Homo sapiens: one gene and its partners. The protein of the gene in region 1 interacts with the protein of each later gene in a pairwise test. Each region holds a gene or a part of one and is shown on either strand. Other genes may lie near its edges.

What was found.
Region 2: the proteins of ZFP91 (region 1) and TSPYL2 interact in binary tests that used the Homo sapiens proteins (3 or more experiments, as listed by UniProt).
Region 3: the proteins of ZFP91 (region 1) and AGR2 interact in binary tests that used the Homo sapiens proteins (3 or more experiments, as listed by UniProt).

What each region holds. Positions count from the first base shown.
Region 1 is NC_000011.10:58,579,737-58,590,338, forward strand, and holds part of ZFP91 (E3 ubiquitin-protein ligase ZFP91), read left to right. Parts: intron 1-5,119; coding exon 5,120-5,148; intron 5,149-10,602. UniProt on the Homo sapiens protein: Atypical E3 ubiquitin-protein ligase that mediates 'Lys-63'-linked ubiquitination of MAP3K14/NIK, leading to stabilize and activate MAP3K14/NIK. It thereby acts as an activator of the non-canonical NF-kappa-B2/NFKB2 pathway.
Region 2 is NC_000023.11:53,073,955-53,085,470, forward strand, and holds the start of TSPYL2 (testis-specific Y-encoded-like protein 2), read left to right. Parts: upstream 1-8,412; 5' UTR 8,413-8,544; coding exon 8,545-9,351; intron 9,352-10,590; coding exon 10,591-10,668; coding exon of another isoform or gene 10,669-10,800; coding exon 10,801-10,912; intron 10,913-10,999; coding exon 11,000-11,145; intron 11,146-11,272; coding exon 11,273-11,367; intron 11,368-11,516. Other genes in the region: GPR173 (probable G-protein coupled receptor 173), read left to right, coding at 2,668-3,789. UniProt on the Homo sapiens protein: Part of the CASK/TBR1/TSPYL2 transcriptional complex which modulates gene expression in response to neuronal synaptic activity, probably by facilitating nucleosome assembly. May inhibit cell proliferation by inducing p53-dependent CDKN1A expression.
Region 3 is NC_000007.14:16,791,398-16,801,999, forward strand, and holds the end of AGR2 (anterior gradient protein 2 homolog precursor), read right to left. Parts: intron 10,407-10,602; 5' UTR 10,400-10,406; coding exon 10,261-10,399; intron 9,987-10,260; coding exon 9,923-9,986; intron 9,807-9,922; coding exon 9,754-9,806; intron 8,421-9,753; coding exon 8,347-8,420; intron 6,298-8,346; coding exon 6,234-6,297; intron 3,623-6,233; coding exon 3,539-3,622; intron 1,561-3,538; coding exon 1,511-1,560; 3' UTR 414-1,510; downstream 1-413. UniProt on the Homo sapiens protein: Required for MUC2 post-transcriptional synthesis and secretion. May play a role in the production of mucus by intestinal cells. Proto-oncogene that may play a role in cell migration, cell differentiation and cell growth. Promotes cell adhesion.

The DNA of each region.
Region 1 (10,602 bases):
CTCCGCACGCCAGATGTCACACCGTTTCCCCGGGAGCCTTCGTGCCTCCTCTCTGCGCCACCCTCATCTCGCTCCTGTACCTTCGCTTGTCGGGCCGTTTCCCCACTCCCCGAAATCATCTTTTGATACACCCCTGCACTCGCTAGTGATCCACCTCCTCCCTGACACCCGCAGGCTCATCCCTCTTTCTGGCATCCGCACCCCCTTTGTCACCCTATCCCTTTCCTTTAGGCGGCTCTCCAGTATTACATCACATGCCCTTTAGGGAATACACAGCCCGATCATAGCCTTCAAAAATGATTCCCCCCCGCCTTCGCGTTAGCTCAAGAGCCAGATGTACTAGTGTGTTTATGTAGCTTTTTTTTTTTTTCACTTTTCTAAATTTTTCGCAACCCTTCTCATTCTTTTGAGAAATTTGCCACTTATTATGGTCAGGTTAAAAGCCCACTGCTACGATTTTAAGTATGGAGTCTTTCATATAAAATTATATGAGCATTCTTTAATGTTTGTTTTTACTAAGTAGCATATGTTTTATCTTTGTGTTTCGTGTTTTTAAATGTAGGAACTTCATCCTTGAAATTAGAATCATCTGAGAGGAATTCCTTTATTACCTAGACGTAATAGAGGAAACATGAACAGGTGGCCAGGAGCATTGTCTTAAATTGTTCGTTAAAATAATACTCATGTTAAGAATACTGAAGCACACAAGTTTGTAAATTCTAGAAATTAATCACATTGACTATTCAATTCATGACTGAAAACATCATTAGTGACCTTTGATTTTTGAGTGAAAACAGATTAGTAAAAACAGAGAAAATTGAAGTGAGGGGGAGTCAGTTTTAAGTGTTCCCTTTCTTCCAGTAGAGATAGTGGCAAGGTTTGACTTACACCAGACCTAATAGATTTAAAACTTGAAACAGACTTGGTCCAAAATTAAGAGTTAAGCCTGTGTCTTGGCATGCTTGCCTTAGAAGCCTCTCAGAAAGAGAAATAAAATTCAGAGGTAATCATATTGTGGTATTAGATATGCTTTCAAATTTTTGAATGTCAGCTAAGTTAACATAATTTAGAGAATTTGTTGTAAGAACTGCAGTTCTGTCGACAGCAAAAATCTGTACTTACAGATTCAGCTGCAATTAGACTTCTAATTGCTGTAGATGCATTTCATCTTACAAAAATTTTATAGTTCTATATTGTTTAATCTCATGAATTTGAAAAGATACATGTATATCATTGACCTCATTTGGATATGAATTCCGTGAGCAAATTCCTTAACCTACCCATGCCTTAGTTTCCTTACCTATAGAGGATAATCTCTGCAACGTGAGTTTGTGAGAATTAAATACAGTGTGTAAAGTGCTAGACACAATGCCTGTTGTAAATACTAAGTACAAGTTGCGTTTTTCAGTAATGGTGGGATGGTAGATCCTTGAGTGGTTTGTAGTGAGGTTTTTCATATAAATTATGCAAAATATGATTTTTTCACTCTTTAATATTACTATTCGTAGAGAGGGTAATACTTAAAATATTTTTAAAATTTCCTTTTATTCTCACCTACCCCTTGAAAATTAAATATACCTATATCTCAAGATAAGATAATTATGTCTAAAATGGTACCTGCTGTTTAATTTCTTTTTTTGGAGATGGAGTTTTTGCTCTGTTGCCCAGGCTGGAGCAGTGCCACGATGATCTCTGCACACTGCAACCTCCGCCTCCTGGCTTCAAGCAATTCTCCTGCCTCGTCATCCCAAGCAGCTGGCATTACAGGCGCCCGCCACCAATCCCAGCTAATTTTTGTAATTTTAGTAGAGGTGAGGTTTCACCATATTGGCCGGGTTGGTCTCCAACTCTTGACCTCAGGTGATCCACCCGCCTCAGCCTCCCAAAGTGCTGGGATTACAGGCGTGAGCCACTGCGCCCAGCCTGCTGTTTAATTTTTGAAGGAAAATAAATAATTTTTATCTAAAACAGTAATTTTACCTGCTGTCATGATTTATTTTTGCCCTAACTCTTGGCAACAAAGTACTAGTGACGCTTTAATTCCATATAACTGTTACTGTTGTATATGGATGAAGATGACTTAATTAAATTCCTTCCTTTTTTCTGCACAATGTTCCTTGTGGGGAGGAAGAAATAAGGCTGAATTCTTAGCGCCACCCGCCTCCCATCCAATATCATTAGAAAACAGTAGTGACAATGGCATTCTTCTTTCAGCCCCAAAATTATCTCTTGACTGTGTTTTTGATCAGGTTGTTAAACAAATTTTCGTCATAATAGAGTTTTTGTTACACATTTTTACCTTATTCCATAATCTGGAAATCAGAGGAATGCTAAAGCATTTTAGCTTGGCAAACTTGTTTCATCAGTATCTGGGCCTGGTACTATGCTGAACTAGGTGGTAGAAAGAAAAATGAGACATGGCCCTCATCTTCAAGGACCTTGGGGTGTAAGGCAAAGATGCATTAATTAGTGGAGATATGTCAAATGTGTGTATGGTATACAGATTTTCAGTCATAAAATACATTTTAAGACTTAATTTTTTCTACATAATTTAATCCTTTAAGATATTTCAAGAGGTTTTGAGTCCAAACCCTGGTCTGGTATCTTTGACTTTGAGTCATTTCTGTTTTCCAAATGACATTTTGAAAATTTTAAAAAGGAAGGTTTATTCTGTATTACTTACTTGTTCGCGCTAGTCCTTTTTCCATATCCCAGCATTTCCCTGTATACAATCTTAGTAATCAGCTGTTTAACCTACATTTGATTTTCTTAATTAAAGTGATAGTAAAGTATACCATAGTTTAAAAGGTCAAGAAATAGATAGATTTGGATTGGTTGAAACCTCTGTTCCCATTGGAAGGCAAAATAATAGAGTGGATAAAGCATTGGACTTTAGTCAGAAAGTTTTATGTTCCAGCTTTGTACTGTGCAGTAAGTGGCCTTGAGCAAGTCACTTAACCTCTTCATTTATAATTGCTTCATTTATAATTGATATTTTATGAATTTGCGAGATGACATATTTAGCTTACAGTTTTTATAATCTGATGTTTATAACAACTTCTTTTCACAATGAACTATTTAGGGGTTATTGGGAAGAGGAAATATTTGTGGATGAAGGGGAAATAAAAATTTTTCATTGTGCTCAAGAGAAGCACAGAGTTAAATGCTAGAATCATGATAAATTGAAGCATAGAAAGCTAGTAGGAAAAATAAACCAAATTTGAAGAAAGTTTATGTATCCATACTAAGAGTAAGACTGATCATTTGCTGTATGTTAGCCAGTAAATTACAGTTATTTCAAGTGCACGTTTATATACTGTCTTTAATTTTTGAAGTAAAATCTAGTAGCATTAGTATACTAGTTTTTGCCTATGATTTTTTTCTGATTCATCCATGCGTTCTGCTAGTAGGGAATGAAATTGTCAAATTAAGACTAGGTTAAAATGTATAAGGCTTTTTTTCATTCTTACATGTAATAGCCCTTCATTTATCCTGTGCATTTCAAAACTTAAAACTTTAGGGACAAATACTTTTTAAAAATTCTAACTTCGCTGTTGAGTAACCATATTAGCTAATACTGAGTATTTTTAGATGTCTTCCTTCAGGTTCAGATTAAGGAAAGTAGTTTTATTTTCTAGTATGTGAAATTCCATTTTTGGTATATTTTCTTGCTAAAATTAAAACAGTAATAAACCTTTAGGTGACCTTTCTTGCTGTTTCCCTTTTGAAGGTCATGGATAGTGAGGATGAAGAGGTGGTAATATTCTGAATTGAAAAAACTTACAGTTCTTTGGAGAAGCCTTCAGTTGTACAAGACTGAAATCCTGTGATCAGGATCTTAATCAGTATGATGATAGAAACATTGAACCAACTTTCAAGGTTTTTGGAAAAGTTTGTTATATAATTTTTCAAAAATTTAGCAATTATTTCTGCAGTTTTTATTTAAAGATGGGATGATTAGCAGTTATGGTGTGTTAATTGGGACATTGGTAATGTGATTTAAAATAAAATTATAATACCAGTCTTTTTTAAAAAAGTATGGAACAAACAGTGATAACTATTGTTTCTAAGTAGAATAGATTTTTGTATTACACTGTGGCTTCTGTATTTGTCTGGGTATTTATTTATAACATATTGTAACATAATAGAGTCTTTACTATATTAGGTTTACTTTTGGGAGGAGCAACAACAAAAAAACTTTGTACTGTTCAGAGATACTCTGTGGTATCTATATGATAAATGTTCAGGGCCTGTTGACTTTTGAATTTTAGTAGTAAGTATAGGAAGTTCATTATACTGTCCTCACCAGTTACGTATGAGAGAAATTTTTCTGAATGAAAAACCTGGGGATATGTCTGATTTTTGTTGTTTTGGGGGTTTTTAAAAAAATCTTCAGGCTATAACAATTTTTAAGCTCTTTACTGTTGCTTTTTAATTTGTAAAGGGCAAGTTACATTTACTTGTGAGGTCCACCTATTGTCTTTTTACAAGTAGATTTTGATTTGGTCTTAACAAACAATTTTAGGGTCTTTTTAACACTTCATTGAGTTTTTATTATGAAAATTGTTAAATATACACAAAATAGGGAAAATAGTATAATGAAACCCCAGTATTGATCACCTAGCTGAGATTTTGCCATGCTTGCTATGTCCATCCTCCCTGTTTTGGCAGAAGTATTTTGGAGCACATCCCAAACATCATTTCATCTCTAGTTAGTACATTTATATAAAATAAGAACATTTTCTTATATAATCACTTAATGTAACAAAATTAGTAATATTTTCTTTGTATCAATATCTTAGTTAAAAATAGGTGTTTTGAATGATATTCTAGCTCTGTGCTGTCAGTTATGTAGCCACATGTGGCTATTTAAATTTACATTAATCAAAATTAAAAATTCAGTTTCACAATTACATGAACTGTTTCAAGTGCTCAGTAGCCACATGTGACTGCCATATTGGACAGTGCAGATATGTTTCCATCACTGCTGAAAATTCTGTAGGACAACACTAGTCTAGATGCTTTCTTTATCACTCTGGAGGTGAACCTGAAAGAGATATTTATATTTTCAGAAAATGTGCTAGATTGTTCATTAATGTTTGATTCTTATTTCTTTCAGATGCATAGAAAAAGTAACAACTGATAAAGGTAAGACTTGGTCATCCTTACCTCTAGCGTACATTACACTGATTATCTTTTAATCTGTTAGAAAGCCTCATCATTCAAATTGGTTCCCATTTAAAAGGAATTTTTATTTGGTAAAAAATTACTGGAGTTAGAAAATATTTAGACGACAGCACGTTTGGATAATAGAGTATATTGGCATTATTTAGAAACCTAATAAAGGCAAATCAGATTGTTTGATGGTAATTTATAGTAACTTTTTTAAGCCTTTTATTTTTAAATGAGGTAACAGACTGGAATGATACACAGTATACAGAGTAAAGTGAAGGCAAAAATTTTTATGCTAGTAGAAATACAGATTAAAATTACAGGGTGAAGAATGCTGAGTGTTCTAAGAATTCAGCCTGGTGAATAATTAAATTAGGTCAATATTAGGTCATTTTCCTTTAAGTTTGAGTGTTAGCACACCAGATGTATGTATTATAGTTTTCTGTTTTCCTGGATTATGACAGGAAGCTAATGTTCACTTTTTCAATAACTTTTAAAATACTTTATTCTGGCTTTGCAGATTAGGTTATTAAAATTGCCCTAACGTGTTGGACCAGTTGCTTATTCGTTTCATTTTTGTTTTTTTCTAGTTTTTGGCTGTGTTCCTTGATGTTAAATTCAAACACACAGCATCCTCCTTAAAACTGAACAAATATACTTTTAGGCACATTTCTTTTATTACGTGTGACCTTGACCCAGGCTTGACACAGCCAGTTTCCAAACTCCTAGAATCCACCTAGTATCCATAGCTTTTAAGGTCTGCTTATAGCCTGCTACTATTTCTATAAAAGAATATATGTATATGCATTTTATATATCAGTGTATGTATTACATGTACATGAGAATCTTAAGGTTTTTCTGTTCTTGATAAATAATTCTTCGAGAACGTATAAGGCAAGTTTAAAGCCTGGATTTTGTGCCATATGGAAGAATGATAGTGTAATTTAAGAACCAATAACTTGCATTGGTGGTGGCTGCTTTGTAAATAATTAGGTTTCAATGCTAAGGTTTCTTATTTCTCTGAATTTTGGAATGTGAGTCTAATATTTCATAGTATAGCAGGCAGAGGTTTTTCATACCTGGCATTTTTTTTTTTTTATTTAGAAACCTTGGCATGATTATTTTGTCTAGCAAGTTTTTTGTTCCTGTTGTTGTTACTTAGAAAATAGGTTATGTCTGCCAAAAATGGAAGGTCTCACATTTCTTATTCAGAGATCAATTTGGAGATTTTATGATGTGGAGAAAATATAGAGACAGGTAACAAGTCTAGAGCATTCTGATTAAAACAAAAAGCAACCTGCTTTTGTCAGAGCTGAAATTACCTTACGTGTCCAAAGAAATCACTATGGGTTGCCTTGAGGCGAACTTGAAGAAAGGTGGAAATTTGGAGCCCCTTTTGGAGAGAAAAGTAGATGACCTTTGGGTAGACGTCTTTTTTTTGTTTGTTGAGTAAAGACAGGGTTTAGCCAGGCTGGATTCGAGCTCCTGGCCTCAAGTGATCCGCCTGCCTCGTGTGTAAATGTTTTAAACTAGAAGTTGACTTATTGGCATGTTTTGTGGTTGTGCAGCTGTGGAGAGATTAAAACTACATTCTGGATAATTTGATCCGAAGATCAATCCCACTTTACTGTTTAAAGGCCCTGGATCTAGATATTCTCAAATGCCAATCTTCATCTCTGTTAGTTTACCCATTAAGGTAGCTGTTCAACTCTATGAACAGTAGATAGGTATATAAGAACTGTAACATTCATACAAGATGAATGAATAAAGAAATGGAGGCTCGGGTAGTCACTTTTTCCTGTTGTGTTTCGTATTTAGAATTCACCTTAATTACTTTTCTTCTGGTCATTTAACTTCTCAGTTATTCTGGTACTCTGGAATAGTCCTCATGTTCAGTCTGCTAAATTTTAACTGAAATAACTCATGTTCATTTCAGAAGTTAAGGGTTTTTCAAAACTTTAAACAGGTTTTATTTTTTAGAGGTAAGACTGGCCTTCTGTTATATTAATGCTGAAAAGATATCTTCAGGATTGTTTTTACTCTTATTTACTCAAACCATCTAGAAATTGTATGCCTTCTTTGAGTTGAAGAGAAGAACCTTTGACATACACATAAACAATATTGCACACACAGAGTAGGCAACTTTCCATTAATTTGCAAAGCTGCAAATTAAGTTGCAAAGTTGCAACTTAAAAAAAAAGTTAAGTTGCAAAGTGCTACATTCATTTTTTTCAAACTGAAATAATAAACATGAGTATTAGTTCCTGTTTTTGCTACCCTTTTTTAACCGTGATTGGTGTATAAAACAAATGGAAAGCTACTATGCTAAAATAGTGTTAATTCATTCAACAGGTAATTGTTGAGCATCCACTATGTGTCTGGCGCTATTCTAGGCACTGGATTCTACTGGTAATCAAATAAATGAAGAAGTCAAAACAGTGTAATAATGTTTGATGAAGTTGGAGCTGAGAAAGCTAAGTTTAGATGAAATGATAAGGGAAGACCTTTTGGTGGAGGTGACATTTGAGATTACACCTGAATATGCAGATAGTTAATTTGGACAAGGAACATTCCACACAAAAGTTAAAAAGGAAAAATTACTTCAAACTTGAAAGCTTAGTTTACCACTGGCAGAGGATTATCTTCATGATTGTGGAGTTTCCAAGAGTGTTAGTAGAAATCTTAAGGGATGGAGATCTAGTTCCTTTTTAACTTGGCTTTATGTTTTCATTGTTTCTCTGTTTTGAACCAGTGTTGTACTTTGATTATAAAGTAAAAGAATAGTCTACCTACACGTAATTTTTAGTTATCCCAGTGTTCATTTTAACTTATTTCACTTTCTAACCTCTGACTAGACATGTTATGAAGCCTAATTTTTTTTTCTCCCATCTGTTATGTCCTTAGTGAGGAATAATAGTTAAAACTGCCTCTCAAGATAAAACATAAAAATGGAGACCAGAATACCTTAATGTTTATTAAAGTATGTTTTAAATGTTTAATGGAATGATAATAAATACTGTAGAATCAAGTAGATGTGGGCAGTGCTTCAGTTATTAATGTTAGATAGGTTATTTATTGCAGAACTTCTCAGAAACTTTGATTTTTGAGTAATGTGCAGTGTAAATACCAAAATTTTGCAGCGATTACCTAACCTATTTGACTTATAAGACCCCCTTTTTAAAGAGCATTTCGTAAAACTGGAGTTTACAGAAAACATACTTGGAAATACTGCATGCTTGAAAATTTGATTGTATAAAACTCTGGATCTCAACCTTTTATTCAAAATCATTTTACTCTTTTCAGTTGCTCTTATGAAATAGTGATGTTTGACAGTGATTACTGTGAGTCTCTAACTTGTGTAGTCAGGAAAAAAGAAGTCAGTCATCAGATAAATTCATAACAGATCTCAGCATTTACTTAGATTATTTGGAGCTTAACTGTTAAGTATTTACCTTACCTAGTTTATCATAATCAGCATACTATCTGTAATTATTACTAAAGTATTAGTTTATTTTGATTATTTTTCCTCCTGTCTGGATGACATCCTCAGTTTTTTTCTTATATTGATACAGTCTAATTTATAGCTTATGCCTCTGTGCTCCATGTTTTAAAATTAGAATTAATTTGTTATTAACAGTTTTCATAGATTTCAACAGTTTTATTTTTCATGTATTGAAATATCTTTGATTATCGTATCCTCTCAAATCAGTCTCTTGTATCCCATTCATCTTGGCCTCTTGTCAACTTGCAACCTCAATATAACATTGACTGTTTTTACTTCCTTTACAGATGTGTCTGTTTTATAGTATACTTTTTTGTTGGTTTTTCTTTCTTTCTAGTATATTTAAAGAATATTTTTATTATTTCTAAAAATACAGAAGACACATTTTTATGCTTTTTTTCCCATTCCAGTGAGAAAAATCTAACTTGTAATTCTTACCATTTGAGTTTGTGTACAAAAGGAAGAATCGAGAAGATACTGAGAACATTGTCTTCACAATTCTTTCTTGAAAGATTTTGAATCTCCTTGCTAATGACCTAGTTTTCCCAGTCAAAATAAAATCTTTTAGGTTTTGAATAGAAAAAGAGTTCTGGAAGGAAAATCTGTAGGTGAGAAAGGGCGTGTATAAGCCCAGTCTTAACACTCAGATAGGCTTTTAAGGTTTTTTTTGTTTGTTTTTGAGACAGGGTCTCATTTTATTGCCCAGGCTGGAGTGCAGTGGTGTGATCATGGCCCACTGCAGTGTTGATCTCCTGGGCTCAAGCCATCCTCCTGCCTCAGCTTCCCAAGTAGCTGGGACTACAGAAGTGTGCCGCCATTTCCAGCTAATTGTTTTTGATTTTTTTGTAGAGACAGGGTCTCACTGTGTTGCCTAGCCTGGTCTGGCTAGGCAGTCCTCTTGCCTCGGCCTCCCAAAGTGCTGGAATTTATAGGCATAAGCCACTACACCCAGCCTGTTAGTTTTAACTGAAATATTCCCCTTTACCAATTAAATGATACTGTTCTAAATTTAAATGTAAGTTAAAAACAACAACAACAACAAAAGCCTCTTTCCCTGGCTTCTCTTAATACTACTGAGATTGGCTAATATTTCAAAGCAAACTTTAATTATTTATGGAAAACAAAGTGCAGCTAGTGATAGAAATACACAGAGTAGTTCAGTTAGGTTTCAGAAACTCAAGTTTCTGACAATATAATGTTCAAGCCTCAAAGGCTAAATACAGTAGATAGACATTTTTGTTTGTCCTTCCTTCCTAATCTTTTATCTTAAGGTAGCAGTAACTGTATTATTTCTCTTAGTATGAGAATAATTTACTCAGACATCTTGTTCCATGTTGGGTATGGCCCAGATCCTTTAATCCGTATTGCTAGTTCAGACATCCAAACCTCCTTTGGTTCTTTTCCATTATTAATTTCCTACAAATAAAGATATATGTCACTTATAATATGTGAATTGTGATGTAGGCTTAAAAAGCCTTGATCATCAGCTTATTTCAGTTATGGGATTACCTATCAGGTAAATGAGTCTTAACTTTATAATAATTTGCCTATTACAGCTCAACTTATTGCCATCTTCGACACAGTTATAAGTTTATTCTGCTATATATATTATTTTACATTGAGATCCCTTTTCCTGCCAAGACCACTTGAGAGTTAAAGCAGAATGCCCTGATAGAAGAAAACTGAAGCAGAGGAAACTTAAAATCCTTAGTGGGGAAAGCCATATTCAGCCAGTACAAATCCAAAACCTTTAAGAGAGACTTGCTTGTATCTTCATTTTGAAATGAGCCTTAGTGGATAAGAATCTGTGACAAAAAGTAATATTGCCCCTTGACTGTTAAGTTCAAGAAAGAAGAAATTCCTCTGAATTAAAACCAGCCTGAATAATCTAATGCTATCCGGGCAAAGGCTTCTTTAGCTTCATAACA
Region 2 (11,516 bases), on another chromosome or scaffold:
TTATATATAAATATATATTTATATTTATATATAAATATACATAAATATATATTATACATAAATATATATTTATATATAAATATATAAATATAAATATATATTTATAAATATATAAATATACATGTATATTTATTTATATATAAATATATAAATATACATTTATATAAATATATATAAATATACATGTATATTTATTCATATAGAAATATATATAAATATACATGTATATTTATTCATATAGAAATATATATAAATATACATTTATATTTATTCATATAGAAATATATATAAATATACATTTATATTTATTCATATATAAATATACATTTACATATAAATATATATAAATATACATTCATATATATTTATATATAAATGTATATTTATATATATTTATATATATTTATATTTATTTATAAATAAATATATAAATATATATAAATATATATTTATATTTATATATAAATAACTATATAGATTTATATATATTTATTTATAAATAACTATAAATATAGATTTATATATATTTATTTATAAATAACTATAAATATAGATTTATATATATTTATTTATAAATAACTATAAATATAGATTTATATATATTTATTTATAAATAACTATAAATATAGATTTATATATATTTATTTATAAATAACTATAAATATAGATTTATATATATTTATTTATAAATAACTATAAATATAGATTTATATATATTTATTTATAAATATTATAAATAAATATATAAATATATATTTATATTTATTTATTTGTATTTATATATAAATATAATTATATATAAATATATATAATTTATATATAAATTTTTATATTATAAAATTATATATATATAAATATATAGTGTGTTAGAAGAGAGAAATTCTAGGAGGCAAAATAGGGAGAGTGGCATGGAGGGGGCATTATCTGTCACCTGGATTGCTGCAGGGGCCTCTGAGTAGTCTCCCTACTTTTAATACACCCCACATGACCCCTGCTCTTCACAACGGCAAGCGGGATTCTGTTCCATCCTAGATCATACCACATCTGGCCTCTGCTCAGAATCCTCCCGTGACTCCCATCTCATTCAGAGGAAAAAGTTCTCGCCACGGCCTCCCTGATCTGACCTCACCACCTTTCTGACCTCACCTGCCACCACATTCCCCTGACTCACTGTGTTCCACCCACAGTGGCTTCCTTGCTCTTCCTCAAATATGCCATGTAGAGTCCCACCTCAGGGCCTTTGCTCTGGCCGTTCCCCCTGCCTGGACTTCTCTTCCCCGAGATATCCGCATGACTCACTCTCTCACCTCCCTTAGGTCTGTGCTCAGATGACACTTCCTCCGTGAAGCCTCCCCTGTCCACCTCATCTAAAACTGCAGCATCTTCCCCACCCCTAGCACTTCCTATCTTCCTTCCCTCCTTTATGTTTATTCTTAGGAACTTGTCATCATCTGACATACTATACTTCACCCGTGTCTCTTCTTTGTTATCTAGAATGTCGGTTCCACAAGGGCCGGGATCTTTATCTGTGTAGTTCACAGCTGTATCCCCAATACCTAGAACAGTGCCTGGCACACAGATGCTTGATAAATATTTTTTCAGTGTATGAATGAATATGCACAAGCATCCCTACATGTTTATATTCACACATACTTGCCTCCTCACCTAAAATAAAAACCAAAGTCCTCATCGTGGCCCACAACCCTACACAATCTGGCCCCAAGGCATCTCTGCGACTTCACCTTCCACCACTGTCTCCCTTGCTCTCACCGTTCCTGCCTCACTCGTCTTCCTGCTGTTCCTCAAGCACACTAAACACATTCCTCATCATGAATAAAGAAATCTATTAAGTGAGTGGTACCAGCATTTTAAGAACACATGAAAGAGAATAAAAATGAATGGGGTACATTGCATACAGGTTCAGTACTGTTTTGTGAAACTTTTGGTTGAGCTGTGTGTGTGCGTGCATGTATGTGTAGCGGGTTGTGATGTAAAATGTATTTTTTTACTGTGGGTGGCAGTAAAAAAAAGTCTGAACACAACCTTAGAGCTTTGCAAAAGGGGAGAAGAGCTGCACCAACATCCCTGCCCCACAGATCCACCAGTGGAGGAAACAGGTAACCAAAGACATCCAAAGAAATGCAGCATCCTCACCTGACAAGGAGCGGGTAGGAGCAGGAGTGGCCCAGGGGCAGGGCCTGGCACCAGCCAGGGCATAATTGGGGAGGGCTCGTAGACACACTAACCCTACCCTTTCTGTTTCTTCCTCATCTTTCCTTTCCATCTGTTTCTCATGGTCTCCTGTCTGTCTCTCTCTCTCTCCCCTCTTTCTCTCTCCTCGCTCTTTCTCATCCCCTCCATTTCTGTGTCAATCTCAATCCATTTATATCGGTGGCCACTTTTCTATCTCTTTGTTCTATCTCTCTCTCTCTCTCTTTCCCACTTTGTCTCTGCACGCCTGTTGTGTTTTTCTGCCTGTCTCTCTCTTGCCCTCATCTCTCTGTCTCTCTCTTGCCCTCATCTCTCTGTCTCTCTGTGTCTGTGTCTCCCCCGCTCATTCCCATTTGCAGGTGCAATGTAGCAGGACAACTCATGGAGCCCCCCCGGGCCCATCGAGTACCGGACTGGCTGACCCCCTAGGGTTGGCAGTAGCCCCTGACCCTCAGTATGGCCAACACTACCGGAGAGCCTGAGGAGGTGAGCGGCGCTCTGTCCCCACCGTCCGCATCAGCTTATGTGAAGCTGGTACTGCTGGGACTGATTATGTGCGTGAGCCTGGCGGGTAACGCCATCTTGTCCCTGCTGGTGCTCAAGGAGCGTGCCCTGCACAAGGCTCCTTACTACTTCCTGCTGGACCTGTGCCTGGCCGATGGCATACGCTCTGCCGTCTGCTTCCCCTTTGTGCTGGCTTCTGTGCGCCACGGCTCTTCATGGACCTTCAGTGCACTCAGCTGCAAGATTGTGGCCTTTATGGCCGTGCTCTTTTGCTTCCATGCGGCCTTCATGCTGTTCTGCATCAGCGTCACCCGCTACATGGCCATCGCCCACCACCGCTTCTACGCCAAGCGCATGACACTCTGGACATGCGCGGCTGTCATCTGCATGGCCTGGACCCTGTCTGTGGCCATGGCCTTCCCACCTGTCTTTGACGTGGGCACCTACAAGTTTATTCGGGAGGAGGACCAGTGCATCTTTGAGCATCGCTACTTCAAGGCCAATGACACGCTGGGCTTCATGCTTATGTTGGCTGTGCTCATGGCAGCTACCCATGCTGTCTACGGCAAGCTGCTCCTCTTCGAGTATCGTCACCGCAAGATGAAGCCAGTGCAGATGGTGCCAGCCATCAGCCAGAACTGGACATTCCATGGTCCCGGGGCCACCGGCCAGGCTGCTGCCAACTGGATCGCCGGCTTTGGCCGTGGGCCCATGCCACCAACCCTGCTGGGTATCCGGCAGAATGGGCATGCAGCCAGCCGGCGGCTACTGGGCATGGACGAGGTCAAGGGTGAAAAGCAGCTGGGCCGCATGTTCTACGCGATCACACTGCTCTTTCTGCTCCTCTGGTCACCCTACATCGTGGCCTGCTACTGGCGAGTGTTTGTGAAAGCCTGTGCTGTGCCCCACCGCTACCTGGCCACTGCTGTTTGGATGAGCTTCGCCCAGGCTGCCGTCAACCCAATTGTCTGCTTCCTGCTCAACAAGGACCTCAAGAAGTGCCTGAGGACTCACGCCCCCTGCTGGGGCACAGGAGGTGCCCCGGCTCCCAGAGAACCCTACTGTGTCATGTGAAGCAGGCTGGTAGGCAGACAGGCAGAGAGAAGGTCATGGCCACCGTGATGGGGCCAACAGCAAGGGAGGGGTAGGGGCCCATACAGGAGTCCTCCTTTCTGAGCTCCAGCCCCAGCCCCTCGAACCACCTGTAATCTAGGCACCTTTGCCAACACCTCCCAAGGATGGAGGACTGGGCGAGGGACTGGGAAAGAGGCATATTTAGTTTTGTGGGGCCTGTCTCCGCTGCCTCCTTCTCCACTTCTACAATCTCATTCTCTCTCTCTCTCTCTCTGTCTCTCTCTCTCTCTCTCTCTCTCTCTCAGAAGTGACAATTCAGAAAAAGAAAAGAACACTGAGAATGCAGGTTTTTCTACTAACAGCTGAGGAGACAGGCTTTCTTACTTTAATGTCTCTCCTTCTGACACTGTCCAGAAGGGGGAATTTGTCCTGTAAAATAGACTTCCAGAGCTCTTTTGCCCCCTCTGCTCCCATGCACCCTCCCCTTCCAAGTCCTTTAGCAAGGCCTGGATGTTTAGGGAGAAAGTGGTCCAAGGCTGCTGACAAGAGGGACCAAAGGGGGTGCTGGGTTCCCAGGGAGCAGGGATGTTTAATTACTATGTCATGTGCAATGTTGTTTTAGGCCAACCCTTGCCCCAAGCCCAGTCTCTTCTCCCTCCCCACCATGTCCAGACCTCCCAAATGGTTCTTGTGCATCTGTTGGAGAAGTCAAGGGAGTAGGGAGAAGGGCCCCAAGGATGGGCCCAGGTTAGGTGAAGAGTAAGATGTGAGCTGAACTCCTCGAACTGAAGAGACCCACACTTGGTCACATTCTCTCACGCTGCCTTCAGGATCCCCAGCCCCCAACTCTTCTTCCTGAGGATGGAAATCCACTCCAGCCCCACTAGGACTGATGTGGGTGCCATACAGGCAGGAGCAGCCCACCAGGAAAGTGTAAGGAGGGAGCTGAACTCCCCAGAGTAGCTGGACCACAGAGACTTGGGTCAGAGCTGATTTCAACCCCAGAATTGTCTCTCGGGTTCACCCTACTCTTCTGAAGATGAAAATTTGTTTGGGGCCTTGGTAACCGATAGCGGTACAAACTCCAAGGCACTGTGGACTTGAGTCCATTCCTATCTGACCTCTTTTTGTCCCCCTCAAGCCTCAGGGGCCTCAAGCCCCTCCTTAGTAGCCCTTGGCTGACTGGGCCCTGAGCCCCAAGCATCCTTCTTTCCCAACAACCCTCCTTCCCCATCCTTCCCCCACCCTTACCTACACCCAAAGTGGAGCACACTGCAGTCAGATTCTCCAGGAGGGAGATCCAAGCCTCCTCCCAGGGGTGGAGTCCACTCTGGGCTTACTTTGAGGCCTGTTCTGTGGATTGGTGAGCCAAGCTGGCACTCCTTGCCCTGGTCTTACCCAGGCTCTCTGTCCCCCTCTCACTTCCTGTGGGGCCGGAATCTGTATTTATCCATCCCCCTTTCCCTTCTTTATAGAAGTCCCTGTCCTAAACTCCCTCCCTAGCCCAAGAGAGCCCCAGAACTGGGGAAGCCTGACCCATACAGAATGGGGAGGGCACTCTAGGCAGGAGAGACATTAATGAGCCTGGCTGCAGAGTGGCCCTGGAAAGGCAGGCCAGAGTGGCTGAGAGGCTGGGAGTAGGGGAGCCTGTTCTCTCAGCGATAGTGATGGGGGTGCCTTTCCGAGGGGGTGGGGTGGGAAGACCAAGGGGGTGGGGGGTAGATAGGGTACATTTAGGAGGGTTTTCCTCCATTTCTTTTTTCTAACTGCCTGGATTCACCATTGGATTTTGTAAATGGAAAAACTGAAATGAACAATGCTATACTGGATGTTTTCTCTTTCTGACTGTGTGTGTGTGTGTGCGTGCGTGCGTGCATGTGCCCTGTCTGACCACATGTGGAGAGACATGATTGAGTGATAGTGTGTGTCTGTGTGACTTTGTGTGGGGAGGCACTCCTGAAGAAAACTTGCCCGGTGCACACACGTAAAATGCCTGTATATGGGGACAGATACAGCACGTGCATGCATACACACACACACACACACACCACAGTTGAGAGGAGACAAACTAGAGTATGTGCCCGTGGTAGGAAGTCGAGTGGTCAAGAGATGGATCTTGGAAACTACATAGGTCGGTAGCAAGAGGGTAGACTCCCATCTCACAAGATGGGCCTCCCTTGGCCCAGGCCCTGAGCACGGGAGGGCTGGGGCCGCCAGGGAACTTGAAAACCTCATCTCCTCACAAAGCCTGTAGCCCCATCTCAACCCCGTCTCAGTCTCCTTCCCAAACTCAAACAAGGTGTTCCTAAAATTGGACCACCATGGAGAATGGGGACTGGGAATTGAGGATCAAATGTGAGGGAAACTGATGAGGTTAGGAAATGCCCCCCACAAAGTAATGGCTTCTGGAGGGACTGCTCAGTCTGGGATGGGAGCCCTTCCTAGGGGCCACTGTATGCAGCTGGGACTTTGGTCAGCTTTGACCAAATTTAGAGGGAGGGATGTCATGGGGAAAAAAAACCCAAGCCCAGGAGTCTACCCAGCCAGCCTGCTCCCTAGACAGTTAATTTACTATCTGGTTATTCTCTCAGGTGCACAGAATTGAGTTGACCATACTCCTCAGTTCTTGGCACACTATATCATCATTGGTCCATGTGAGGCCCTTTTATTTTTTTTTCTTCAGTTTTGTCCCCTTCATCACCCATTCCTGATCCCATCCTCCCCGCCCCCTACACAGGCACCCACTCTCGTGTATTTAACGTACGTCCTTCCAATCCACCGTTCATGTGTTTATTTACATATATGTGTATCTGTGAAAAATGTATGGTATTGCTGTGTGTTTTAATTTACATAAACAGTATTGTACTATAAATCTTGTTGTTTCTTTTTTCACTCAACATTCTGTCTTTGAGAGATCCAGCCATGTTGCCGTATATAGATCTAATTCATTCTAGTGGTCCATCTAAAACATATATCACATTTTTCTTATCCACTCCCCTGATGATGGATCCCTAGGTCTCCTCTCTGCTCCGCGACAAGGCTGCAATGGGCAGTTACCTACACCTCTCTTGAGGGATGCCTAATTTAGGGGAGAGAAAACTGAAGCTCAGAGAGGGGCAGTGATTTGGTTAAGGTTACAAAATGAGGGGCACACCCATGATGTGAATCCCAGCACCAAAGCCAGCCCTCCACCACCATGCCTCACAAAAGACCATCCATCTCTGGTTTAAAAAGAAAAATCTTAAAATACAGCATACACTGGGGAAAGGGAGAGGAAAGGATGGAAAGGGGGAGAAATGAAGAGACAGAAAGTGCTAGAAAATTCTAGCAGATGAGCTGAATCACAATCATTTTTATGACGCAGAGGAAGTTACTTTTTTGTGTGTGTGATTATTATTTGTAGAGCCATTTTGCGGAGATGGAAAACGCCACGTCAAAACCTGGCCCCCAAACCAAACACCCTGGGTGCCTAAATTGCAGGCGCAGGCGGTAGGGCAGCCCGAGCCCCCGAGGAGCTACAGCAGAGTTCACCCAGGGGGCAAACGTGGGGGGTGGGGGAAGGGGCAGAAGTGGAAGGTAGGAAAAGAGGCAGAAGCGGGGGGGCGGGGGGCAGGGGTTGTGTGAGGGAAGGGGCAGAAGTTGGGGGATAGGGGAAGGGCAGAAGCGGAGGGCGGGAGGGTGAGGGAAGGGGCAGAAGTGGGGTTGGGGGGTGAAGGAAGGGGCAGAAGTTGGGGGATAGGGGAAGGGGCAGAAGTGGGGGTGAGGGAAGAGACAGTTGGGGGATGGGGGTCAGAAGCAGGGAATGCGGGAAGGGGCAGAAGGGGGGGTGAGGGAAGGGGCAGAAGCGGGGGAGGAAGGGGCAGAAGCGGGGGGTGAAGGGGCAGAAGCGGGGGTGGGGTGGGGGAAGGGGCCGAAGCGGGGGATGGGGGAAGGGGCAGAAACGGGGGGTGGGGGAAGGGACAGAAACGGGGAGTGGAGGAAGGGGCAGAAGCGGGGATGGAAAAAGGGGCAGCAGTGGGGGATGGGAGAAGGGGCAGAAGCGGGGGTGGGAGAAGGGGCAGGAGCTGGGATGGGGGAAGGGGCAGGACCCGGGATGGGGGAAGGGGCAGAAGCGGGGGTGGGGGAAGGAGCTGAAGGAAATGGGGGAAGGGGCAGATTTTAAAAGTGCGTAGTTGCTGAGGGGAGGGGGGCGGGGGGAACGATAACGAGGCTCTTCCAATTTCATGTGAGCACATCCTGCTCAGCGCCTGCGTTTGTTTTTCGTCTCGTTTTTTGGTCTTCAGAACCACTGGTACTTTTCCCATTGGATAAAACGCTGAGAGGGTGAGGGAGAGGGGCTTCTTCCCCAGCTTTCCTCGCAGCCAATCGCCCTGCAGTTTCCCTCCCGTCGCTGAGGGAGTCAGCCCGTTGATTGGCGGGCCCGAGGGGAGCCAATCGGAAACTGATGATGTGTGGTGTTGGCAAGCGGATTGCGTGAGAGCGGGCAGGGGTCGCGGGAGCGCGATCGCCGCCGCGGCGGCCGGCAGCCAATGGCCAGGCCGAGCGGACCCCTGCGTCAGGAGTGGGCGGGGCTTCGGCGATTGGCGCGGAGGGAGTAGAGCGGGCGCTGTGGGAGGGAACGCCAGAGCGAGGTGGTGAGGAGAGCTGGTTGCGTGAGTCTCCTCAGCTCTGCTTACCGGTGCGACTAGCGGCAGCGACGCGGCTAAAAGCGAAGGGGCGAGTGCGAGTCCCCTGAGCTGTACGAACGCGGTCGCCATGGACCGCCCAGATGAGGGGCCTCCGGCCAAGACCCGCCGCCTGAGCAGCTCCGAGTCTCCACAGCGCGACCCGCCCCCGCCGCCGCCGCCGCCGCCGCTCCTCCGACTGCCGCTGCCTCCACCCCAGCAGCGCCCGAGGCTCCAGGAGGAAACGGAGGCGGCACAGGTGCTGGCCGATATGAGGGGGGTGGGACTGGGCCCCGCGCTGCCCCCGCCGCCTCCCTATGTCATTCTCGAGGAGGGGGGGATCCGCGCATACTTCACGCTCGGTGCTGAGTGTCCCGGCTGGGATTCTACCATCGAGTCGGGGTATGGGGAGGCGCCCCCGCCCACGGAGAGCCTGGAAGCACTCCCCACTCCTGAGGCCTCGGGGGGGAGCCTGGAAATCGATTTTCAGGTTGTACAGTCGAGCAGTTTTGGTGGAGAGGGGGCCCTAGAAACCTGTAGCGCAGTGGGGTGGGCGCCCCAGAGGTTAGTTGACCCGAAGAGCAAGGAAGAGGCGATCATCATAGTGGAGGATGAGGATGAGGATGAGCGGGAGAGTATGAGGAGCAGCAGGAGGCGGCGGCGGCGGCGGAGGAGGAAGCAGAGGAAGGTGAAGAGGGAAAGCAGAGAGAGAAATGCCGAGAGGATGGAGAGCATCCTGCAGGCACTGGAGGATATTCAGCTGGATCTGGAGGCAGTGAACATCAAGGCAGGCAAAGCCTTCCTGCGTCTCAAGCGCAAGTTCATCCAGATGCGAAGACCCTTCCTGGAGCGCAGAGACCTCATCATCCAGCATATCCCAGGCTTCTGGGTCAAAGCAGTATCCTTCTAATCGATACTCCGTAGGTCAGAAGCCCGTGACAGGAAAGGGGAAGGTGGGGGAGGGACAGAAAAGGTAAAGCGGGTGGAGGAGAGCCAGAGGTGGGCATGATCCCCCTATCGGAAGACGGACTAGACTGGGTGGAAGAGGGATGGAAGGAGGAGGGCAAAACAGCAGAGAAGCTGGACTGGAGATGATGAAGGGTGGTGGAGGGGGGGCGGACATAAAAACTGGACCACAGATGGGAAAGGGGGAAGAGGAGGAACATAGCATTAAAAAAAGGATCACAGATGATAAAAAGGGGGAGGGTAGTAAAGGGGCACACAGCAAAAAAATTGGACCAGAGATGGTGAAAGGAGGAGGGGAGGGGCACGTAGAAGATGAACTGACTCAGAGACCTTGAAGAGGGAGGGGAATGGCACACAGCAGAGAAACTGCCCAGAAAGGGTGCTTGAGCCATACAAGGCTCTGTAAACCTAGATTTTTGCTTAAGATACTAGGAGACCCCAATCCTGGCTGGAGTGCCTTGCATTGGAGGGAGGGGGGCTGGAGCCCCTGAAAGATCAAGAGAGGGAGTGTCTAGGTATAGAGAAAAAGGAGTTAAATGAAGGAAAGGGGAGAGTAGACACATACACATACATGTAACATGTTAGGAACATGAGTCGAACATCCTAATAGAATTATGTGGATACAGACCCTTAGCCCTCATATGAAACAGCACATGGTAAGAGGCCCTTAGCACCCAGGCATACAATATCATTTAGACATAGGACCTCAGCTCCTAGACACAGTATTATGTGACCACAGGTCCTCAGCATGTAGACACATGGCATAACTTGACCACAAGCCATCAGAGCCATTCACACATCATGTGGACATGGACCTTCAACACCCATACATACAATAACGTGACCACAGGCCCTCAGCAATCAGTTACAGCATCACTTGGACATGGCCCTTAAGCCCCCAGACGTGCATTTTGTGAACACAAGCTTTCAGCACCCAGTGACATATACCACATGCACATGGATTGTCGACACCCTGTAGGGCCACCTAACATAGAGGTTTATCATGGGAATAAGTATGGGTTATGTCCCATGACTCACTTGCTTTATACACACCACATAAGCACAGAAGGAATCCTCATGCTCCAGCCTCTCTTACTGTGCCCTTCCTGGCCTTCCCTCCCTCCCTTTCACGGAATAGTCAATCCTTGACCTAAACTGCTCCACTCATCAGTTCCTCAACCACCCCAGAATTTCAATTTTGATCAACCGACGTGATGAAGACATTTTCCGCTACTTGACCAATCTGCAGGTCAGGCCAGAGAGACATTTTTTAGTAGGATCGGGCACGAATCTGGTTCTTGGAGGTGACGGGAGGTGGGTGGGAAGGGCCGTGGTGTGTTGGGGGGGGGACAGATTCCACCATCACCCCCACCTGGAGCAGGTACAGGATCTCAGACATATCTCCATGGGCTACAAAATGAAGCTGTACTTCCAGACTAACCCCTACTTCACAAACATGGTGATTGTCAAGGAGTTCCAGCGCAACCGCTCAGGTAAGTGGCAGTACCAGAGTAAATCCATGTTCCCCCCCTCAATCTGTCCTTGTTTTGTCCCATCTCCATAGCCTTCTCTCTCCCTAGGCCGGCTGGTGTCTCACTCAACCCCAATCCGCTGGCACCGGGGCCAGGAACCCCAGGCCCGTCGTCACGGGAACCAGGATGCGAGCCACAGCTTTTTCAGCTGGTTCTCAAACCATAGCCTCCCAGAGGCTGACAGGATTGCTGAGGTGGGGCCCTTCCTGGCATCACCAGAGAAGGCCTTGCTAGGCTTGTTCCTGGGTGCGTGGGGAATTAAGAGGAGGATCTGGAGCTTGTACTAATGGCTGTCTTATTCCTTCTCCCCTTTTTCAACAGATTATCAAGAATGATCTGTGGGTTAACCCTCTACGCTACTACCTGAGAGAAAGGGGCTCCAGGATAAAGAGAAAGAAGCAAGAAATGAAGAAACGGTAATGGGAGTTTGGTCGCTGAGAGGTGGTTTGTTGGGGATGGGGAAAAGACTAGTGTAACACAGGATTTATGGAGCCAAAAAGGGACCTTTGAGATAATCCCAGTGGAATATGTTTTACAAGTGGGAAATCATGCCCAGAAATGGCTT
Region 3 (10,602 bases), on another chromosome or scaffold:
TTTATTTATATTTAAAAAGTATTTGTATGTGTTAAGATATTTTGCCATTCAATACATTTTAAGAAGTTAACCTTATTTCACGTCCGCCCAATGAAAAAATATTTTGCTATACTATAGGAGAAACTTGAATCACTTAGAACTTGTCATTTAAAATATTTGTTTATGGAAGGGAAACCTCTTTTTCCTCTTGTTATCCCTCAGAGATCTTTTTAAATGGAATGTTTTACCTTTTTCAGCACATGTAAGTTATCTACTTGTGAGAAGGGAGCTGATTAACCTGTGATATTTTTGCTGAAGATTTGTATGTCATTAAATCAGCAGTATATGCTCAACACCTACTAATGATAGTAGTCACTAGGAGAGATAGAAAAGATTGAAAATATATCCCTGGAAAAATTAATAATGCCAAAAGATCTGTTCAAAAAAGGTTTTATCCAAAAAAGTTAATCAAGACAAGCAACAGATACTGCAAAGCATTATATACAGCACCATAGTCCAGGGGCCAAAGAAATCAGGAGGGGCTGGGCAGTAGAGGAATTCCATATATTAATGAATGTGAGATTAAGTATAGAGTGAAGACATTAACACACAATTCTAATTTCTGTTAGGCAGAATGCTCCCCTACCCTGATGCCACAGCCTTTCACGTTTCCTAAACCCTAGTAACCTCTGATCTCCATCTGCCTCATCAACACGTCACCACCCTTTGCTCTTCTTCCAATTAGTCACATGTTGGCTGAATTTATTTCACTCCAGTACTTTAGGACCTTGACAGACAAATCGATTACAAGGTCAATTCCCAGGATTTCTTCAGGGTGTGTTCAGGAGTGCAGATGTTCTTTGGATGACCTTTCTACTAAATTAGACCTCTGAAGGAGAAAGCTACTTGCCAGAGGCTTTCCCTGAGAGCATTAGGTTGGGCAAAATCTGACTAAAATTTAATTACTAAATGAAAGTGTGTACCTTAGAGTTCCTGGCCAGAGTTGACTCTAGGTAGTGATGTGATTTTCTTGGGATGTTTTTCTAAATATTCTTTTATGCTAAAGCACATGGCTTGATACTTCTGTTGATTAAGCTCGTGTCTACTTACAGTCATCTAGTGAGAACCTGTGGTGTGGTGAGATGATAACTTGGTCTTTGGTCTTCATCATTTGAACTAGTTTTGGTTTTGTCTTGTCCCTTCCTTGAGCATTTTGTGTGTGTTTAATCCTATTTGGTAAACGAACCACTGTGAAAGACCAAGTTGGAGAAAACAGAACACCCCCAAAACATTTATTTTTTTTTTTAGAAAATCATGGCTCACTATGGTAGTATACAATATTGTTTTCACACATGTACACTTGAAACCAAATTTCTAAAACTTGTTTTTCTTAAAAAATAGTTGTTGTAACATTAAACCATAACCTAATCAGTGTGTTCACTATGCTTCCACACTAGCCAGTCTTCTCACACTTCTTCTGGTTTCAAGTCTCAAGGCCTGACAGACAGAAGGGCTTGGAGATTTTTTTTCTTTACAATTCAGTCTTCAGCAACTTGAGAGCTTTCTTCATGTTGTCAAGCACTAATGGGGGATAAAAGCAGGAGAGTCAAGACACCATCGTGCGTTATATCGATATAATAAACCCCAAACTTGGATGCTCAATTCATTATTTAATGGGATGCTTTTTTTTTTGAGACAAGGTCTCACTCCCACTCAGGCTGGCATGCAGTGGTGCAATCTCCACTCAGTGCAACCTCTGCCTCCTGGGTTCAAGTGATTCTTCAGCCTTAGCCTCCTGAGTAGCTGGGATTAGAGGTGTGCTCCACCATGCCCAGCTAATTTTTGTATTTTTGGGAGAGATGGGGTTTTGGTATGCTGGCCAGGCTGGTCTCGAACTCCTGAGCTCAAGTGATCCACACACCTCGGCCTCCCAAAGTGCTGGGATTACAGGCGTGAGCCACTGTGCCCAGCCTGATAGGATGCTTTTTATCATGAGGTGAATAGTTGGTAATCTTATTGTAATTTAAAAAAATTATATGAAATGGCTTTTGTGACAATCTAGTTTTCTAGTGTAGTCATTCCTTCCCAGATCCTTCATCTCCAACCCTCACTTCCAAAAGAATCCTTTTATAAGCTCTAGCAGCAGAAGATAATTTTGGCTCATTTAGAAGTAAATTTAAATCATGTTTAAAAGAAATGTCTATTAGTAGGTGTGTGTAAATTGTTTTAGAAGTAGGGGAAATATAAATAATAGCAAACCAAGTGCTTTATGCAGATGAATTCTTTAATCCTCATACAAACACGATTAGAACTTTATATATACATAATGAAACAGGCAGAGAGAGGCTGAGTAGCTTGCTCAAGGTCACACAGCTAACAAGTAATGGAGCTACTGTTCCAGAGCCCAAACTCTGGGTCACTGTTTCTTCAACAGCAATTCATCAAAATGAGGTATGTGATCTACTAAAAATAAGATGTCCACTCGATAGGCATTGAACAGCCGCTTATTCACTCTTCCTACAAATCTTAATTATTAAGTGCCTGTTCTACAAGGGATTGTGATATTACTTGTGTAGGACACGTGCCTTTTAAGAGCTTAGTCTTATTAAAATGTATGGTATTATCTCAGTAATGGCTGACAGTACTTGGAATGTGCTTCCCCTGGTCCAGCACACACTGGAAACATTGCTAATGGACCATGATGATCTCTCCTGCTTCCTAGACACGGCCTCACTTCTCTTCCCAACATGACGTTCTAAGTCAGCACTGGCCAATAGAAATTTCTGTGATGATGGAAATGTTCAGTGTCCGGGCATTGAGCACTTGGAATATGGCTAGTGTGACTGAAGGAATGAATTTCTAACTTTAACTTAAGTAGCAACATGTGGCAAATGGTTAACATATTGGACAGTGCAGTTCTAGGCAGCCACTACTAATTGATCAGAGTTGGTTCCTAGGATAAAACCCACTTTTCTTCCCAGAGGACTAATCAGATGTCACAGCTAGCTACAGCGTTGCATTGAGGTACCTCATCTGCCTTAAGTCAGTGTCTCTCTCTCTCTCTGTCTCTCTTCCATTGATGGCAACCATAGGGAAGGTAATTTTCTTGGCAATCATTTGGATCATCTTTGAAACTGATCTTTAAACTGAACCTGAATTTAATTTTAAGCTGGACTGCACATTCTTTCACTTTTGTTATTTAAAAAATTAAGACATGCAGATTATTACAATTATTACACTCAGTTCTGTGATAGAAGGAGTGTGTGCTCGTGTACCTAACAGAAAACCTGAAAATCAGGTAATGTGGTCATAGAATCCTCCTAGAGAAAAAGATACCTAATCTAAATAATTCATCTTCAATTGAGATTAAAAACAAACAAACCTGAGATGGAAAGAGTGTGATTTGCCTGAAGATGCAAGGCTAGTTAGGGTCAAACTGAGTCCGAGGCGTCCCTAAGCCTAGCTCTCTCTCACCTCACCATGCAGCCTCTAGTCCCATCACTACAGCAATAGAGGTGTTCAACTCTTGGGCAACATCCGAATTGAAGGTCACACTTACACAGAGCTGTATCTGCAGGTTCGTAAGCATAGAGACGATTTGAATATCTTCCAGTGATATCGGCTCTAACTGTCAGAGATGGGTCTGCAAAGATAAATGAAGCAAAAGGGAATGGAATGGTTTGTTTTCAAACAACCTGTATTTATTGCCCCGGGGAGCTGAAGTTCATGTATTCATGTCCTGTGAGGGAATGGAGTGTGTCTGCACTCACAGGAGCTCTGATCCATCCACTCTACTACCCAGCCCCTGGCAGTTAGTAGCAAATGCAGGGCTGGAAACATCAACAGCTGTGCAGTGCTATTTGTGGAAAAGGTTATGAACCCTTCTGTTCTATCTATGGCAACCTGAAAACAGAATAATATATATTTAGGGGTGACATGGTGTTTTTTTTTTTTTTGGTGAAAACATTAACATTCTCTACTGCAAAATTATTTTAAATTCTTGAAACGATTATGTTGTAGTTTACATGTTTCTAGATCATTGGAAACCCACATCCAATGCTAGTTTTCAAAACGAGTTTTTTAAAAAAAGTTAATAGAGGAATGCAAGTCCTTAACAACAGCAAAGTTCAAATAAGCATATAGTACCTTCACTATATTTTACTTTATTGTTAATTAACTGCATTTTTAAAAGTAGAGATTGGTCTTCTCTTATGTATACTTATATCCCTCTAAATTTAAATCCATCTTGCCATGTTTTGTATTTAACTTGAAGTGATCTAATTAATGAGAAAAAGAGGTATTTTAAAATTAAGGTGCATCCAAAAGGGAAGCGTGAGGATACAGAGAGATCTGGAAACCTTGCCTTGAGAGACGTAATCGAAAGAACCTAGGACACGTGCCCTGAAAATGAGACAAGGAAGACATGTGAGAACCATCTGCATGTTTGCAAAGTCTGTCGCTGGTACTGGAGTGGGCAATCTGTCATTTCAGAATGTTGGACTAAGGCCAGACACATAAATTACAAGAAGCAGATGTACATTTATTCACCAGATTTAAGACCAACTATACTTCTGTTTGGTGCAGAGGATACAAAGACACGGTCTAATCTTTGTAAGAAATTAACCTAAGAAGGGCTTTTTAAATACCCAACTAGCAGCTCACCTGGCTGCACATTGGAATCATCTGGAGAGCTGTAAACACTATGGATGCCTGCCTCCCACCCCCAGAGATTCTGATTTAATTGGTTTGAGGTGTGGCCTGGGCAACTTGATCTTTAAAATCCTCCAGGTGATTCAAACATGTAGTCAGGGTGGCTACTACGGAGCTAGAAGAGCAAGCTGCCTTGGAGCTGGTTCTTAGGACTGAAGGAATTGAATGTGGGTTAAAATGCCCTTCCACAGGGATGCTGTACAAAGAATTCCTGTACAAGGTATGAACAGACATCTATAAATTCCCTTTTAATGTTAGGATTCCAAATGTCCTAAATTCTGACAAAACTAAACCTATAAAATTAGTGCTTTAGTTCAGCCTTCTTCCTTTTTTTCTATTTCTTGTTTTTCTTTTCCCTGCTTTGTACATTCAGTGTAAACTTTTAATGAATTACACAGGTGAATCATATGATTAGCATGAATTGTTGTAAGTGATGGATTTCATTATGGATTGTCCTTAAATCAGTATGACTTTGAACAAAGCCAAACTCAGTACATTCATTCAATAATTAAACACATATTGATGGAGAGCCTACTGCAGGGTCACGTTGGGAATATCATGGTGAGCAGAAATAGGTACAGTCCCTGCCATAGGGGCTTATAGTCCAATGTGGGAAATATTTATTACATAACCACCCCCAAACTGCAAAATTATACCTGAGGAAAGTATGACTACAAGAGCACATAGTAGGGATTTGACTCGGTCAATGAATAATGATGATTGGGGAGTTAATGATGTGAAATTGGGGGACAGAGAAGGAAGTGGGGAAAGCATATGAAAAGTACCAGTGGCAGGAAGGAGCATGTGGCTCCTTTCATTTCTTTTTCCCACCTCATATTCCTTTTTTTTTTTTGAGACAGAATCTCGCTCTGTTGCCCAGGCTGGAGTGCAGTGGTGCCATCTCGGCTCACTGCAACCTCTGCCTCTTGGGTTCAAGCAATTCTTGTGCCTCAGCCTCCCAGGTAGCTGGGATTACAGGCTCCTGCAACCACGCCTGGCTAATTTTTTTTTTGTATTTTTTAGTAGAGATGGGGTTTCACCTTGTTGGCCAGGCTGGTTTGGAGCTCCTGACCTCAAGTGATCTGCCGGCCTTGGCCTCCCAAAGTGCTAGGATTACAGGCGTGAGCCACCCAGCCTTATTCCTAACTTTCTTAAAAATAATGATAAAAAATGTCAGAAAAATCTAACACACAAAGTGAAAGTTTGCTGGATTAAAAAATAAATATTTGCAGGCCTCTCGTATTCAGGAAATTTATCAATATGTTTAAATAGTGAATAGGGTGCTTTGTTCTCAGAAGTATTATAGCAGAAGATGAAAAGTTACAATTAGCATGTGAGAAAAGAAAGTGTTGTGTGGAAATAGGTAAAAGCTCACATTTTCTAAAGAAAATATGTTGCGGAACTTAAAGGAATGTCATGCTCCTTGCTAGAGCTTAGTGATGACATTGGCCATGGCAACGTGGCAAGGGACAGTGGGGAGGAGAGAAGGAGGATGGCAGCACTAGTATGTGTTTCCGAGTTATCTCACTGTCACTTCCGCTTACCAACAAACATAATCCTGGGGACATACTGGCCATCAGGAGAAAGGTGTTTGTCAGTTGTTTCATACTAAAATAAAAAGAAAAGCATCTTTTAGTTTACTTTGACTTTTCAGTCGTTTTCAAACTTGTTAATACAAGAATCTGTCCATTTCCGGCCAGGCATCTCAAGATATCATAACTCTTCCACACAGAGTTTATTGTACAGATGAGGAGACAAGTTACAAGCATGAAATAATAAATAAGATAGAGCAGAACATGAGATAAAGTGCTGAATGGATGTGATAAAGAGCAAAAAAATTAAGGGAGAATTTGGAAGGAGTTACTGTGTTTGGGGAAGACATCTGGGATGAAATAAGAGGCTATTAAGGAAAAAAGCAGATGTCATTTCTAGAGAAATTACGGAGACAAGTACGGGATTTTCTTGAGTATTCATTTATCCATTTATCAATTTTTATTTAGAACTGTATTTAGCAAGGCATGGTGCTTATCTTTAATGAATGCACACTCTATTGAGAGATACAGGTAGGAAAATGAATATTGAGGATGCAGTGGGTGAAATGTTACGGTGTAGGATATGCAGGTTTGGTGATTGCCTTGAGCAAGACATTTAGCCCAGAATGCAGATTCCACCCCGACTAGGACTTTCTGAAGTGGATAAGGAGGAATCTTTACAAATGAACAGGAGTCAGTTAGGTGGAAAAGAAAGACACTTCATGCAGGGGGAAGAGTATGGAGAGGACAGGTGGAGCATTTTCTCCTATGGCCAAGTGCTGGGGAAGGACTGAGTTGGGGGGATGCACGAGGGCAGTGGCGAAAGAAGGTGCTAGAGCTGCTTCAGGGGCCGGCTTAGGAATGACTTTGCACACCATGCCATAGTGTTTTCCTTTGTTCAGAAATAGTTAAGAACCACTGGAGGGATGTTAGAAGAGGCACTGTGACCCCAGTTTGGTCTGTAAAGCAACTTCTCTGACAGCCATGTGGGATTAGACAGAGTTTATCTTGTAGACCAGGAGCCATTTAGCAGTATTACAGTAAGCTAGGGAAAGTGAAAGAGGCTTACTAAAATAGTGGTCCTGAGTTTATAGAGAAGTGACTAGTAGCAGGAATACTTGGAATTTAGAAGCACAGGGCTTATTGCATGCTGTAGGTAAGTAGGAGAGTCCAATCTAGCACAGTACCACTTTCAGTAAAATAGGGAATAGAGAAAGAAGAGCTATTGGAAAAGCGCAAACCAAGATGATTAATGTGCAGTGAGGAACATACTGAGTTTAAGCTGATTATGAGATATCTGGAATATGGTTGGATAGACAATTTGGAAGTTGTTTCATGTTTGGGTAAGATGTAGGAATTATTAGTGTGTCGGAATTGATTAAAGGCAGTTGTAGATGGAGTTGTTCACTGAATACAAAATATGGAAAGAGAAAAGGGTCAAGTAGAGATTCATCATGTCACTCACATTAAGGAGTAGGAAGAGGAAGAGGAAGAGCCCATGGAAGAGAGGCAAGGAAGAACTACTGGTGCGAAGTGGTCTTTAAGGAAGCCAACCTGTGAAGAGGAAGGGCCGGAGGGCTCAAAAGGACATATGATTAGGTAGAGTCATTTTTTTGTTGGCTTGCTTTTAGAAGGAAAATGAAACATTTGTATACAGTAAAAAGAACTTGCCGAGACAGAAAGCTTGAGCACCGTGAGGGGTGGTAGTGGTGAAGTAAGGTGGGAATGCATGAAGCTAAAGCACAAGAGGCATGATTAGAGTTGGAAAGCCAGAGAGCTGTCTCTTCCCAAGAGATGACCAGGATTAAGAATGGGTGTAGAGAAGCCAGGACTATAGAGGGACAGGCACAGCAAGTAACAAAAACCTTCCAGCAACAGAAAAAATTCTGACTACGGGAGATAATTTTTCAGACAAACTAAGATGATTAATTACTAAATAAAAACAGACACACCAAATGGATTATTAATACAACGAAATATCTTTTTTCTCTCTAATTTATGAGATGGGATATTTGGAAGCAATCCCAGTTAATGCAGTATAACTAAGATGTATAGGAAAAATGAATCATCCATTTCAAGTAATGAGCCATAGAGAAATGTTAGTAATGATGAAAAGGAAACTTACAACCAGATTGAGGAGGACAAACTGCTCTGCCAATTTCTGGATTTCTTTATTTTCAGCAAACACTTTCTTTAAAGCTATAATATAAAGAAAAATCATTAAGCATCCATCTTAGCATTGGTTAAAAGCTTTGTTCAATTTTCAGTTAAATTGCATTTTATTTACTTATTGAATTGCATTTTAAATACAGTATTCTACTTTGGCCTTTTAGCAAATGATTAGTGAAGTAATATCTATGGCATTGACTACCTCTGCTTTCTATTCACTCATTCATCCATTCATTCATCAATTCATTTTTTTCTCCAGCTCATATTTATTGAATGGCTGCCATGTGTTACGCACTGTGTTCTGTACTAGGGATGGTGCAGTGAACAAAAAAAAGCATGTGTTTTTTCACAGAGCTCACATACTTGTGTGGGAGACAAACCATAAACAAAGAAATAAGTAGATGATACTTTCAGGTAGAGATATGTACTTTGAAGAAAAATAAAGCAAAGCAAAGGGTTTAAAAACTGTGAGTGGTCAGGGCAGATCTTCCTGAGGAGCTAACGTTGAAGTGAGGGAGTGGTCCATTTTGGGGTAGGCCACTGTGGGCAGGGGGAACTGCAAAAGCACTAGCTGTGAGGTGGGAATGAGCTCACCTGTGGGAGGAACAGCACGAAGGCCAGGCTGGAGAGAGTGAAGAAAGCAAGAGGAGAGTGGTAGGAAGGGAGAGATAGCCATTGGCCTGATCATGTCAGCCTCATAGGTTGTGATCAGAAATTTGGATTTAGTTCTGTGATAAGAAGCCACTTGAGCACGTGAGTGATGGAATCTGATTTATGTCTACCAGCCTCACTCTGGCTTCTGTGTGGACTGGCTGTAGGGTGGCCAGTTAGGTGACTGTTATGGTAGTCTAGACAAGATCTGATCTGGGCTTGGACCAGGGCAGTAGCATGGAGGCAATAGGAAGTGGTTGGATTTGGGCCCAGTGCAAAATGAAAGGGTAGAGCCCCTTGTTGAAGAATTACTAAGACTTTTAAGACAATGATAGCCAAGTTTAAACCAAGTTTGGGAACCTTCTAAGCTTGGGGCCCTGTGAGATGGCACAGGCTTCATGCCTGTGAAGCTGGTGCTGGTTTAAGGATATATTTTGAAGATAAAGCCAGTATTTGCTGGTGTATTGAATGTGGACTGTAAGAGAAATCAAGAAGTTGAAGATGAATCCTAAAACTAGTTTTTCAAAATATGTACCAATGGTTATCACAAAATGTGGAGATATTTGAAGTCACTTTTAAATATGTTTTTACTATATAAAATATTCTTTCTTTAATGCAACTGTGGTTCTAAAGATACAAACATGAGTGATCTGAACCCTGGCCCTAAGGCTAAAAGCCTATAAAGGAAATCATACTTAGAAGAATAAATTACCTTGACTGTGTGGGCACTCATCCAAGTGATGAATAATCATCAAGGGTTTGTTGCTTTAAAAGACAGAGATTAGACAAATTTTAATGAGTAAGATTTCACATATATCTAGATGTCACTAGGTGGTGCTCTTGAGAGCTTTGAGGGAGCTCTGAGTAATCCTGATCTTTACCTTGTCTTGGATTTATATAGAGCTTCTTCATATGTCTGAGTCCAGATGAGTTGGTCACCCCAACCTAGAATGAAATGAATCAGTATATTTGAAGCTTGTATAAATTCAGACCCAAAGCTGTTGAAAAGCAATGGTAAAGACTGGGATAATAGACCCTATACTAAAGAAGAAGAAAAACCCCTGGAGAAAGTAGAAATAATTATAAACAGTGATAAGTCTAGAAGGAACACAACCAAAAATAACCTGGCACCAGGTTAGAACCAGGTTTAAGCACCAAGAGAGAGGAAATCTTTTCCAATTAAGTAGCAGTTGGAAGCCAACAAGAAGCTGACTCCTACCTCTGGAGAGGGTCTGGGGCAGTTTGGGTCGAGAGTCCTTTGTGTCCTTTTTGGCTCCAGGTTTGACTGTGGTATCTCTGGCCAGAGTGTAGGAGAGGGCCACAAGGAGCAAGAATGCTGACACTGGAATTTTCTCCATGGCAACTCTAGTATGGAAAACCAACCAAAATCAGTAAACAAAATTGAACTAGCAGTCTTCAGGGTCTGCAGGTTGCCCCACAACGGTGGAATATACCAGAAACTGAGGCTCTGCTGAGACTGGACATACGAGATTGGCGTAAATAGCTCTGTTCCATGGGATTTTCCTAAGAATACAGGTGGTCTTTGACTTACAATTGAGTA